Homo sapiens: one gene and its partner. The protein of the gene in region 1 purifies or fractionates together with the protein of each later gene. This does not show direct contact. Each region holds a gene or a part of one and is shown on either strand. Other genes may lie near its edges.

Region 1 (7,150 bases):
CAAATAATCCATCACTCAGATATATCTCTGAGTAGAGAAAATGCCTCTTTCTTTCTCACCTCTCAGTGATATTATTGCATCATGAAGCACTCAGTATGCTTTAAGTTTATGGCTGGTTGGCTCAGGACACATACCGTGGTGTTAATGAGGCTGGGGTCATGGAGGCCCGTTAGCTTTGCTCTGTTTGCTGACCACAGACTACCGGGAAATCAGTCAAGAGATGCTAGCACAGACAAGAACGGCACCATGGCAAAACCTCAGTAGTTCTCAGTTTTTCCTCCCCATACAACAGGCAGGATGTGTTAGTTGGGCGTCATCATCTCAAGGAGGAAATGAGTAGCAGCTTGGGAGGCCCCAACCTTTAACTCTGAACAAAGCAGGCCTGACATTTAGGCATTAACTTTGCATTATAATCCCCCATCATACCATTGATTTGCTGTGTAACCTTCATCACTAAAGCAGAGATAATAGGATAGAATGAAATGGGCTTACCTCCCGGAGATGTTGTGTGAATTAGCAAATTAACGAGTGTAAAGTGTTAGCATTTATGTAAGTGCTGGTGGTTGTCATTATTTCTAGGGACCTAGTCTCATTCTAAATAGAGAATCTAAGTATATTATGCTTTTGTCAGAAAGGGATTTTCACCCCACATCAATTGCATTTAAGCTGAGCATAAAACAGAGGTGATAATAACATAGTAGTGATCATTGCAATGCAGAGCTGTAAACCTTTTCCCTATTAAAGCTAGAACTATTTTCAGCAACTTTCAATGCTTTTAAACTTTGTTTTCCAAGTTTTGTTATCTCTATAATAATTATTCTTCCTGTGATGGGTGGTGGGAATGGGACCTGGAATAGGTCCTATTCATTATTCATTCCCATGATGACTATATAATATATTGAATTTTTTTACATCATACAATCAAGCAAATTTGGTAGCTAGTGTGATTGCCACATATTGCAATCATTGTAAAAAATAAAAACTCTTTTCTGCTCTGCCTATGCTGGTGTCCTCTAGAGGTAGCCAACATACAGATTGAAAACTCATGGGGAATTGAAGTGCTTTCCAACAAAAGGTGCTGTATATAGATCTTTTCAATTTAACATCTTTACCAAAGAATTTTGTTGTTGCCTGCTATTTCCAAGGGGACTGTGCTTGAGAGACTGCTTCCATTTCTTTTATCACTCTGACTTCGCTTACCAAGAAAAGTCATTTATTGCTGATTGCAGAACTCTTGAACTCAGCCGGGCAGCTGCCGCATGAACTCCTCAGATCTGAGTTCCTTGTTACTTATTTACATTTTCATTTGAAGTGATTTTTCAGGACTATTTGAAAACCTTTCTCAACCTAACATCATGTAATAGCAAAGATCTAAAACTTACCATGCTTTTGGTCCTTTTTCTGTTTGTCTTACAGATAACAGACGAGTACCTTTGGAAAGGTCACGCTCTCGCCACAATGGAGCTATCTCATCTAAGTGATTCCTGATGCCAAAGAATATGAAAATATTTAAGTAAAAACAAAATGATGCATTTTGAGAAGAACAAAGTGTGCACTCAGCGGCTGGAAAGGAAATAAGTGCATTTCTGCAAAGATCAAGATAAGCTGGATGAAGTAGTGTGCATTTGTAATACTATTGCAAGACTCCTCCCACAATTATTCTAATCTGAACACAGTTATCAGGATTACAAAATGTGTTCCATTTTAGTGTAAAGATGTGTATCATTTGTAATTGTGTGTGACCTGACTGTGATGATGGAAGTGTAAGAAATTGAAGAGTTCTAAGGCTTTCAAAAACACTCAGTCAAAAATTTAAAATCTTAAATGTGTAAGTCACCCCCACCAAAAACAAAAGAGAAGAAAAAGAATAGAAAGAATTATCCAGTGTCAGCTTCCAATCCCTAGTACATATATAATAGAAAAGGGCCAAGAAAAATATGCATCTTGATTTGGAGAGAGGCTAATATTATGCACACTGTAAGAGAAGCCATTTTGGAAATTCACGAAAGTACTGCTCCACCCCAGTTGAGTTATTTAGAATTTTATCTCAAGTGAAAGCTGATGGATTCATCTGCTTTGGCTGAAATTAAACTTATCATTAGTCTAGCTAGCATTTCAGCATGATATTGCAAGCACTTCTCATTGCTAAAAATAAATAAACCAAAGTTTAACCGAATCAGTTAGGGAAAGTGATTTAAACTTTATTTAAAGAGGTATTTTCTAATTATGCACAGATATCTACTTTATACAAATACTTTATATGGCTATTTTTGAGAAAACCCTCACATTTTAATGTTTATGCTAGGGATGAACCTGAAAATTCTATTACGTTTATTTAGATTTCAAAGGCAAATATTGATTCCTATGCTCTGTGGTTTATTTCTTTTTTCTATTGCTTCTTTCTCCCTTGAGTCCCTTGAAGGCAGGGAATAGACTTCTAGAAAACCTGAGAGGAAAAAGAATTCTTTTTACAGGAGGCAGCAGAAAACTGTCTGAAAGGTCAATTGTTTTATCTCCCTTTCCACTCTCTTTCCAATTTCACTTTGGTGGTCTGAAGAAGAAAAAGAAATTTTATGTATGTATGTGTAAATATGTGTATATATTTCTATCTCTTGCTACAATAATTCCAACTAAGTGAACTTCTCAATTATCATCATACTTACTTACCTTATATTAACAAATTAAGATGATGCTGCCAAAACAAGTCTAGCAGGGAAAACAGGTTCTACATTTTTCTTAAATAAATTAGGGAGTAAAAGTTATACTTAACTTGTCTGTCTATTATTTTAAAATATGCATTGAAATAATGTGGTATAACTTCTCTGGAGTGCAATTTTAAGTCTAATTCATGCAGATGATTGATTGTGATTATTGTAAGAAATTTCTTACATGTATATTTCTTATGTAGAAAATACTGTTTCTACTCATTCAAAGCACATTGTAGATATTCAGAGAGAAGAACAAATGGCTGGCTTGGCAAATCCCCATCTGAGATAAAGTAAACAAGTGACCAGCAGCCCACAGATGATTCCTTTATATAGATGTATAATGATTCAAACTGCTGCCTTTGCCTCCAGTGCATCCTTACTTAGGTATTATACTTCTTTAAAAAGCTCTGAAGCTGCTACAATAGAAAAATCAAAAAGGGTAACAGTATCTGAAATTTCACAGTCCTATCCGATCTGAAAACACACATACACAAATGCACACACATGCACACACACATTTAAGGGACATAGCAGTAACACTGTTTTTTAACAACAACAAAAGTTTAGGTTCTAATTTATGTAAATACCTAGTATGTGTATTTTTGACTTTACAAAGTCTTTCTTTTCTGAAATCTTCGTGGTATGGCTTTTTTAATTCTTTTGACAGCTTATCAGTCTGTAGGAGAATGATCTTGAAATGTTAACCCTGACTAAAATTTGGGAGCATATGCCTTGCTATATTATCAAGCTGGTCAAGGTAGAAATACTGATATGTATCATCACCTTTTCCAGATACAAACTTGCCTTATTTTCTAGTTTGTGAACAAGAACGAATGAAGTACTATTATTGATAACTTATATATTTTTATTTAGAGCAATCCCACATGCTTTTCACAAACATTAAAAAAAAAAACCTTTCAGGGTCTTTCATGAAGTTCCAATAGTTGAGTGAGTTAAAAGGTTTGTTTCCCAGATTTGTAATGGTCCTGCTCTAGCCATTTGCAGTTTTGTTTTAGATGATTGGAAAGTATATCACCAAAAAAAGTATATAGTGACATTTTTAGTATGAAACCAAATTACACTAAGGTCTTTTGTTGGCCATATTACTGCCACACATGAGAAGCACCATTTATGCAGATTTTCTTCAGAATATTTTTAAAAGGTACAGAATCCTTAAAATATTAACAACTAATTGCATCCATCATCTCCTTTGGCTGCTGTAACAAATTACCACCAATAATATGATGGCTTAACACAACAGAAACTTATTTGCTTACATTTTTGAAGGGCAGCAAAGCCATGCTCCCTCCAGAGGCTCTAGAGGAGAATCTTTCCTTGCCACGTCCACCTTTTGGTGGCTATTGGCATTTTTTGGCTTATGGCCACATTTCTCTTTCTGCTGTGTCTTCACATCACCCTCCTCTGTATACCTAATCTGCCTCTGCCTCTGTTTAATAAGGATCCTTATGATGACTTTTAGGGACTACCCAGATTACTCCAGGATAATCTCCTCACCTCATGAGTCTTAACTTAATTACATCTGCAAGGCCCCCTTCTCCAAATAAGATAAATTCATGGTTTTGGGGATTAGGATGTGGCTATGTCTTTTAGGAAGCCACTCTTAGCCCACCAGAGTCTGCCCTTTGGCCCAAAATTTATGTCTGTCTCATGTGTAAAAGACATTCATCCCATCCTAACATTACCAAAAGTCTCAACCCATTATATCAATCCTAAGTCCAAAATTTCATTCAAATATCATCGGTTCAAAAGTTCCAAAGCTTATCATTTAGATCATCTAAATCAGGTATGAGTGAAACTCTGGGTATGGTCTTTCCTGAGGCCAAATTCCTCTTCCTCTGAGAACCAGTGAAACAGAAAAGTTAATCTGCTTTCAAATTACAATGGTGGGAACAGGCATAGGATAACAGTTACAGACATTTCTGTCTCAAAAAGGAGAGAATGGAAATTGGAATGGAGTCTCCTGTCCCAATCATTTTCAAAATCTAGCCAGGCAAATTTCTGTTATATTTCAAGGCCTGGCAGTAATCCTCTTTCTCAGGGCTCCACCCTTTGGGCCTGTAGCTCTTCTTTCTTGGACTATGGATTGGGCCTCTGCCTCTGTGCCTATGGGTTGCACTTCTTCCTCTGTTCCCACACTTGGGCCTCTGCCTCTGTACCTGCAGCTCTGCTCTCGGGATGGTGCTTCCTTTATCTTGAAGGGTGGCACATGTTTGCAGCTGAGAAGTTTTATCAACGGGTTTCCTACCTGTAGAATTCTGGCAGTCTCACAATCTTCTTTCATTTTTTTCTGTCTCTGTCCCTTTTAGGCCCAGTTGGAAGTGTTTCTGATGGTAGAACATTCTCAAAAATCTTGTGGGTCTTCTACGTATGTCACATTGATTCACACATTCAGAAAAGAGGGTCCTCACAGATTTTTCCTGAACAACCCCATCTCTATTCTTGGCTTCTGTTGAAACAGTCAAATAAATCCACAAGTTAATGCCTAACCTCTTCAGCACTAGCCAAAGGTTGTCAAGACACACCCTTGGGCTTATCTACAGAGCACACTTTTCTAACAGTGAATCTCCTAATTTTAGCATCTTTTTTTTTTTTTACAATCATTCAGATTGTGAATTCAGGCTCAGAATTTACCCAGTCATCAGATACTGATTCCTTTTGTCCACTTATATAGTTATTTTCTCTTTAAAAAAAAATTTTTTTTAATGTATTAGAGATGAGGTCTCACTCTGTCACCCAGGCTGCAGTGTAGTGGTGCAAACATAGCTCCCTGTAACCTCAAACTCCCAGGCTCAAGGGATCCTCCTGCATCAGCCTTCCAAGTAGCTGGGTCTACAGGTGCATGCCACCATGCCTGGCTAATTTTTTGCATTTTTTTGTAGAGACTTGATCTTGCTATGTTGTCCAGGCTGCTCTCGAACTCCTAGCCTCAAGCAATCCACCCATCTTGGCCTCCTAAAGTGCCGGATTACAGGTGTAAGCCACCATGCCCAGCCTGTTTTGTCAATGTATCTGTTTTCTGTCTTATTTTACTATAAGCACTAAGAAGAAACTAAGCTATATCTCTAACACTAGACTTGAAAATTTCCTCAGCTAAACATCCAAGTTCATCATTTATTCAACTTTTCACACTACTGTAGTAGACAATTTAGATAGATAAACTTTTTGCCACTATATGACAAGGATTCCCTTTCTTCCATTTTCCAATAAAATCTTCATTTCCTTCTAAACCATCACTAGAAATGCCTTTAACATTCATACTACTACCATCTGGTAAAGGCAATCTAGTTTTTTCTATCACAGCCACCAAAATTCTTCTAGTCTCTACCCATTATCCAATTCCAAAGCCTTTTTCACATTTTAAGACATTTGTTACAGAAGTACCCAATCCGTCCCAGTTCCACAATCTGCATTAGATTCCCATGGCTGCTGTAACAAATTACCCTCTAGCCCAGTGGCTTAAAACAATAGAAATTTATTATCTTGTTGTTTTGGAGGCCAAAAGTCCAAAATTGAGGGGTTGGCAGGGCTGAACGTCTTCTGGAGACTCTAAGGGAAACACTCTTCCCGTGTCTTCCAGTTTCTTGTGGCTGCCATCATTCCTTGGTTTGTGACTGCATCTCCCTCTCCTCTGTCTTCACATCACTTCCCCTCTGTATATATAATCTACCTCTGCCTCTCTCTTATAAGGACACTTGTGACGGGACTTAGGGCCCATCCAGATTACCCATGATAATTCCCTTATTCCAAGATTCTTAATTATATCTGAAAGGACCTTTTTTCCAAATAAGGTACTATCACAGGTTCCAGGGAGTAGGATATTGAATATCTTTTTTGGGGAGGGGGCACCATGCAGCTCACTACACTATTCATTGCACACAAATGAATTTTTCACTTTTTAAGATGCATTCTTGGTGCTCAAACCAGATCGAAGTTTGTCTCTAAAAGCTATTGTCTGCACAGGCTGCTGCATGCTCTGTTGTTAAATGGATGGACAGGCTATTCTAAATTTTGGTTGATACTTTTGCTACTATGGGCAATTAACTTGAAAAAAATAATCGATCCCAACTCTGTGCTCTGATGTACCTCTTCTGCCCCTTTTATGACACCTTTGACCAAATGCCTTCTATGGTTCACAGTGCAGGCACAAAACTACCTCTGATACAGAAGGGTTCTTTACAAGCTTATTTTACATACCGTGAATCCCTCACCTAAAGGGAGAGGTGAAAGCAAAGACTGCTTTGAATGGGTATTGAGGGAGATTGTGTCCATACCAAGCCACCCTGAAGAAGTATTTCACTTGCAGTAGAACTGTGGATTTGTGCTGTCATTTCACCTTGGAATAAACACCTATCTCTAAGCAGGACCAAGAATGACTTGCAATCTATATGTAATGGCTACTTACTTATTCAATAAAGTTAAGA
Region 2 (5,821 bases), on another chromosome or scaffold:
CGGCCTCCCAAAGTGCTGGGATTACAGGCATGAGTCACTGTGCTCGGCCCTGGCCGAACCTTTTGTGAGCACTTACTGCGTGCTAGGCACCTACTAAGCTCTTTGCGTGTGTTGGTCCTCATGACCCTCTTACTCATCCGAAAGTTCCATGGCTTAGTCTGTGATCCATTTCACAGGTGAGGAAGCTGAGGCCCAGAAGAACTTGCCCAAGGTCGTGGAAGCAATAAAGCTGGTTTGGATCCAAGCAGTCCCATCCCAGTGCCTAGATGGGGTGGGCTTTTACCTACCTTGGAACGTGTGTGTAAAGACACCTTGAAACAAGAGGCATAGGCAGGGCGTGGTGGCTCATGGCTGTAATCCCAGCACTTTGGGAGGCCGAGGCGGGTGGATCATGAGGTCAGGAGTTCGAGACCAGCCTCACCAACATGGTGAAACCCCGTCTCTGCTAAAGAAAATACAAAAATTATCCGGGTGTGGTGGCGCGCGCCTGTAATCCCAGCTACTCAGGAGGCTGAGACAGGAGAATCGCTTGAACCCAGGAGGCACAGGTTGCAGTGAGCTGAAATGCGCCACTGCACTCCAGCCTGGGCGATAGAACGAGACTCCGTCTCAAAAAAAAGAAAACAGAAAAAAGAGGCACGACACAATGATAAGTGATGTCGTTTTTCTTGTTACAGTTACCAGTATGACAGGTGGGAAGGGGCCGGGTGTGGGTTCTGGCCAGAGGGACCTAAGAACATTAGGTCCTGGCAGGTGCAGCCCTGGGAGCAGCCACGAGGGGGCATCAGGCTGCACAGGCGGCTCCAGGATGTCGGTCCGGGACCGGGCATAGGGGTTAGCGAGTGATTCTCGGGCACCGCAGGACGAGCCCTACACAGAGCAGGTGGGCCCAGGAACCCCCTTTCTCAGTCCAGGACTCCCAGGCCTCAGGGCCTGGCTTTGGTGGCGCCCGTCTGTTGCAGTGGAGTTCGGCGGTCACAGCCTAGGGACCGGGTCCAGCCCAGCCAGCTCAGCAGCAGGTCAGCGCCCTGCCCCTTCCCGCGTCGCTGGGACGCCCCGAGCCGCTCAGGTCACCACGCAAAAGCCCTGGGTAATCCGCCGCCAGAAGTTGCGACCGCGGCTGCTGAGGGCCACCTCGGCGGCCTCCTGGAAGACGGCGTGGACGTTGTCATGGAGCCGAGCCGAGCACTCGAGGTAGGCCACCGCGCCCACGGACCTCGCCATCTCCTGGCCCTAGAGGGAGAGGTGGATGGGGCTGCGGTGAAGGGGGCACTGGGCAGGCCTCACGTTCTCGCTTCCTTTTCCCGGACAAGAGTGGAAGGTGGGGTCTGCGGAGCACCCATGGCTCCCGTATCCCTGCTTGCCCAAGCGCCCTCATGCACTTCATCATGTTTGTTTTTCTTTTCTTTATTTTTATTATTATTATTTTTTTGAGACGGAGTCTTGCTCTGTCGTCCAGGCTGGAGTGCAGTGGTGCGATCTCAGCTCACTGCAGCTCCTCCAACCGGGTTCAAGTGATTCTCCTGCCTCTGCCTCCAGAGTAGCTAGGACTACAGGCACCCGCCACCACACCACTTGGCTAATTTTTTGTATTTTTGGTAGAGACAGGGTCTCGCTATTTTGCCCTGGCTGGTCTCGAACTCCTGACTTCAAGTGATCCACCCACCTCGGCCTCCCAAGTGCTGGGATTACAGGCGTGAGCCCCTGCGCCCTGCCAGCCTTCGTTGTTTTTAACCTCCGTTCTGGGCCTCTTTGCCTCTCAAGGCACCAAGAAATGAACTTCCCATGAACCCAGACGTGTAGCAGAGAGGGACCCACGGTCTGAATATGTGGGTGCCTGCCTGGGCCCCCTCTCTGGGTCTCAGGTTGGTGGTGGAACTGACTCTGATATGCCTACTTCCTTGTTCTCCCTTTTGCCTGTGGAGGCTCCCAGAATATTCTAGGGACCATTTCTAAGTGCTGGAAGTTTCTGACCTCTGACAGCCTCTAAGACGACCGCAGCTCTGACCTACACCCTGAGCGTTCTGGACACCTGGTGCCACTGAGAGGCATCCAGAGGTCCCCTCACTCAGTCCTCCCCAACTCCCACCTCGGGCTGGGTTTCCTACCCTGTGGTAGGTCACAGGCTCCAATCCGTTTCTTCGGAGCTTGTTCACCAGTGATTTGTCCTTGCGCAGGTCAGTCTTGCAGCCCACGACGATGATGGGTACCTTCTTGCAGAAATGATTCACTTCTGGGTACCACTGCAGGGGGGCGAGGGGGCATGTGGGGGGCATGTGTGAGCCCTGGAGAGTTCTGGCCCTCTCAGTGGACCACTCTCTTGCTCCCCAGCCTGAGCTCTGATATGGATAATCAGCAAAGCCAGCACCTAGGGAGAAACTATTTGGTACCAGAACCTCATCTAAGAATTTACACGTATGGACCCATTAATTCCCCGAGGCCGTGGCAGCAAGTTCACAACCAATCCCACTGTACAGGTGCGGTAACTGAGGCACAGAAAGGCGATGTAACTTGGCCTTGGCTGGAAATGGCAGGATTTGAGCCTGGGGGTGGGGCTCAGAACCCTGCTCCTGCCGTTCTAGAATCTTTCCTCTCTGCAGGGTAAGGGCCCTCATGGACACCCACCAAACTGAGCAAAACATATAAGGAAGTAAGGGATCCTTTAAAAACAAATCTGGGCCAGGTGTGGTGGCTCACGCCTGTAATCCCAGCACTTTGGGAGCCTGAGGCAGGTGGAACACCTGAGGTCAGGAGTTTGAGACCAGCCTGGCCAACAGTGAAACCCTGTCTCTAGTAAAAATACAAAATTTAGGTGGGCATGATGGCGGGTGCCTGTAATCCCAGCTGCTCGGGAGGCTGAGGCAGGAGAATGGCATGAACCTGGGAGGCGGAGGTTGCAGGGAGCTGAGATCGCGCCACTGCATTCCAGCCTGGGCGACAGAGTGAAACTCCATCTCAAAATAAATAAATAAATCAATTAAAAAGATAAAAATAAATCAATCAATCCAGGCCGGGCTCGGTGGCTCACGCCTGTAATCCCAGCACTTTGGGAGGCTGAGGGCAGGCAGATCACCTGAGGTCAGGAGTTCGAGACCAGCCTGGCCAACAAGGGGAAACCCCGTCTCTACTAAAAATACAAAAATTAGCTGGGCGTGGTGGCGTGCACCTGTAGTCCCAGCTACTCTGGAGGCTGAGGCAGGAGAATCGCTTGAACCTGGGAGGCGGAGGTTGCAGTGAGCTGAGATGGAGCCACTGCACTCCAGCCTGGGCTACAGAGTGAGACTCCGTCTCAAAAAAATAATAAATAAATAAATCTGCTCACAAAATGGTTGCAGCAGCTGTCTGCCTCAACTGCTTGCCTGGTGGAGGGAGGGCTGCTCTGCAGAATGTGAGGCCACCAGGGCCGAGTTCTTTCAGCCTGGACTACAGCTGGGGAGCCGGGGATCCCGGGAGGGGGCTTCCTATCTCCAGGAGCACTAAGTCGGCTGAAGTCGGCTGGTTTGGGCATGAAACTTGCCTGATAAAAATTGGCATCAGCCGGGCTTGGTGGCTCAAGCCTGCAATCCTAGCTACTCGGGAGGCTGAGGCAGGAGAATCGCTTGAACCCAGGAGGTGGAGGTTGCAGTGAGCCCAGATTGTACCACTGCACTCCAGCCTGGGAGACAGAGTGAGACTCTGTCTCAAAACAAACAAACAAACAAACAAACAAAAATTGGCATCAAACTACCTCATTCCTGGAAGCAAATGGGGCCTTTGTGGGGTCCCTGGCAGATTCCCCACACCCCCGCATCCACCGAAACTGCCCATGAGAAAGGTTTCCTTGGTGGCTCCCACTGAACCCAGCAGTGAATCCTCTCTTTTTTGAGACAGTCCCGCTCTGTCGCCCAGACTGGAGTGCAGTGGTGCGATCTTGGCTCACTGCAACCTCCGCCTCCCGGGTTCAAGCAATTCTCCTGCCTCAGCCTCCCAAGTAGCTGGGTTATAGGCATGTGCCACCACGCCCGGCTAATTTTTGTATTTTTAGTAGCAACGGGGTTTCACCATGTTGGTCAGGCTGGTCTCAAACTCCTCAAATAATCCACCCTCCTCAGCCTCCCAAAGTGCTGGGATTACAAGGCGTGAGCTACCGCACCCGGCCACCATCAGAGAATCCTTAGCCCTGCTCCTACTGATCCCTCGATAACCCCGACCCTGGGCATCACTCCCTCCTACCTGACTGAGCCTGCACTTCACCCCAGGACCCCACTCTCCTGGCTCTCCTAGGTCTTATGGGGCCTTGCCCTCCTCCTCCTCTCCCTGGGGTTCAGCCTGTGGTCTTTCCTCTCCTCTAGCTGCTCTCCCTTCCTGGGCAGCCTCCCCCAGGCTTTACTGCACCCGTAGCTTCTAAATGTGCAGCTGCATTTAGGCTGCCCAGCTGGACTGCCTGCTCGGAGGAACTGCAGACGCATGCATCGCACTGCCTGCCGGACACCTCCACTAGGATGTCCCACTCCCGAACCCAGCTTGCTCCTTGTCATCTTGGCCAAGGGCAACTCCACCTTCCAGCTGCTCTGGTAAAAACTCCTCCCAGGCTGGGCGTGGTGGCTCACGCCTGTAATCCCAGCACTTTGGGAGGCCGAGGCGGGCGGATCACGAGGTCAGGAGATCAAGACCATCCTGGCTAACATGGTGAAACCCCGTCTCTACTAAAAATACAAAAAATTAGCCGGGCGTGGTGGCGGGCGCCTGTAGTCCCAGCTACTCAGGAGGCTGAGGCAGGAGAATGGTATCAACCTGGGAGGCAGAGCTTGTAGTGAGCCGAGATGGCGCCACTGCACTCCAGCCTGGGTGACAGAGCAAGACTCCGTTTCAAAAAACAAACAAACAAACAAAAAAACTCCTCCCTCCCACCCACATCCAATCCAACAAGAAACTCTGATCATCAGCAAACTCCGCCTTCTAGACCGATTCAGAATCAGCCCCCTTCTCGTCACCCCCACTGCTAGCACCCTGGCCCCAGGCACCACCATCTCTCCTGGTACCCAATGCCCAGAACAGCACCAGAACGAATGTGCTCAATCATTCGTTCTGAATGAATGGGCGGAGCAGCCTGCCTGGGTTCAAATCCCAGTGTTACCACTTTAATAGATGTGTATCTTTGGACGAGTGACTGGATCCGGGAATAATAATACTCCATAAGGTTGGCCGGGGGAGTAAATGAGTAAATACATGCAAGTACCAAGAACACTGCCTGGCACGTGGTCAGTCCTTAAAATTGTCACCGTTGTTGTTGTTGTTGCAAATACTGTCATGGGCTGTACCCTGCGGAAACTCGGAGGCCCTGGCAGCAGTGGGTGAGGGGCTGTGCCATGGCTAAAGGCAGCTGGAGCAGAGGAATTCAAGGGGCCACATCCCTGATGCCCATGAGCAGCCTCTGAGAACCAGCAGCCACGCAGAGCTGCTGGACTCTGACTTGACTGTTCATGCACCTTGGGCGGGCACAGGCTGGGGAGATGTAGCAGCCTCTGGCTCACCCAGCAACCTCAGGCAGAGCCGCCGTGGGAAGAGCCACAGTGTTCGGAGTCTGCAGCATAGGGTAGGCAAGGAGCACTGTACTGGGAGTCAGAAGGGCAGACGCTGCCACCAAATCCCTGTGCCAGCAACCCTGGGCAAGCCACTGCCCCACTCTGAGCCTCAGTTTCCCCATATATACACCAAAAGCTCTGGAATCAATATCATTTTGGGCCTGCCAAGCTCTGACAGTCAGCTGGGTCGAGGGTGGGTGGCAGAGTGGAGTGGCCTGGCTATGGGGGCTATGCCTCCCTGCCCCCCAGTACCTACC

The links.
Region 2: the proteins of DIAPH2 (region 1) and RHOD purify together in Homo sapiens (co-immunoprecipitation; 3 studies listed by BioGRID and IntAct, with this or other methods). This does not show direct contact.

What each region holds. Positions count from the first base shown.
Region 1 is NC_000023.11:97,597,837-97,604,986, forward strand, and holds part of DIAPH2 (protein diaphanous homolog 2), read left to right. Parts: intron 1-1,416; coding exon 1,417-1,481; 3' UTR 1,482-7,150. UniProt on the Homo sapiens protein: Could be involved in oogenesis. Involved in the regulation of endosome dynamics.
Region 2 is NC_000011.10:67,066,847-67,072,667, reverse strand, and holds the end of RHOD (rho-related GTP-binding protein RhoD), read right to left. Parts: coding exon 5,821-5,821; intron 2,244-5,820; coding exon 2,109-2,243; intron 1,234-2,108; coding exon 1,066-1,233; 3' UTR 651-1,065; downstream 1-650. UniProt on the Homo sapiens protein: Involved in endosome dynamics. May coordinate membrane transport with the function of the cytoskeleton. Involved in the internalization and trafficking of activated tyrosine kinase receptors such as PDGFRB.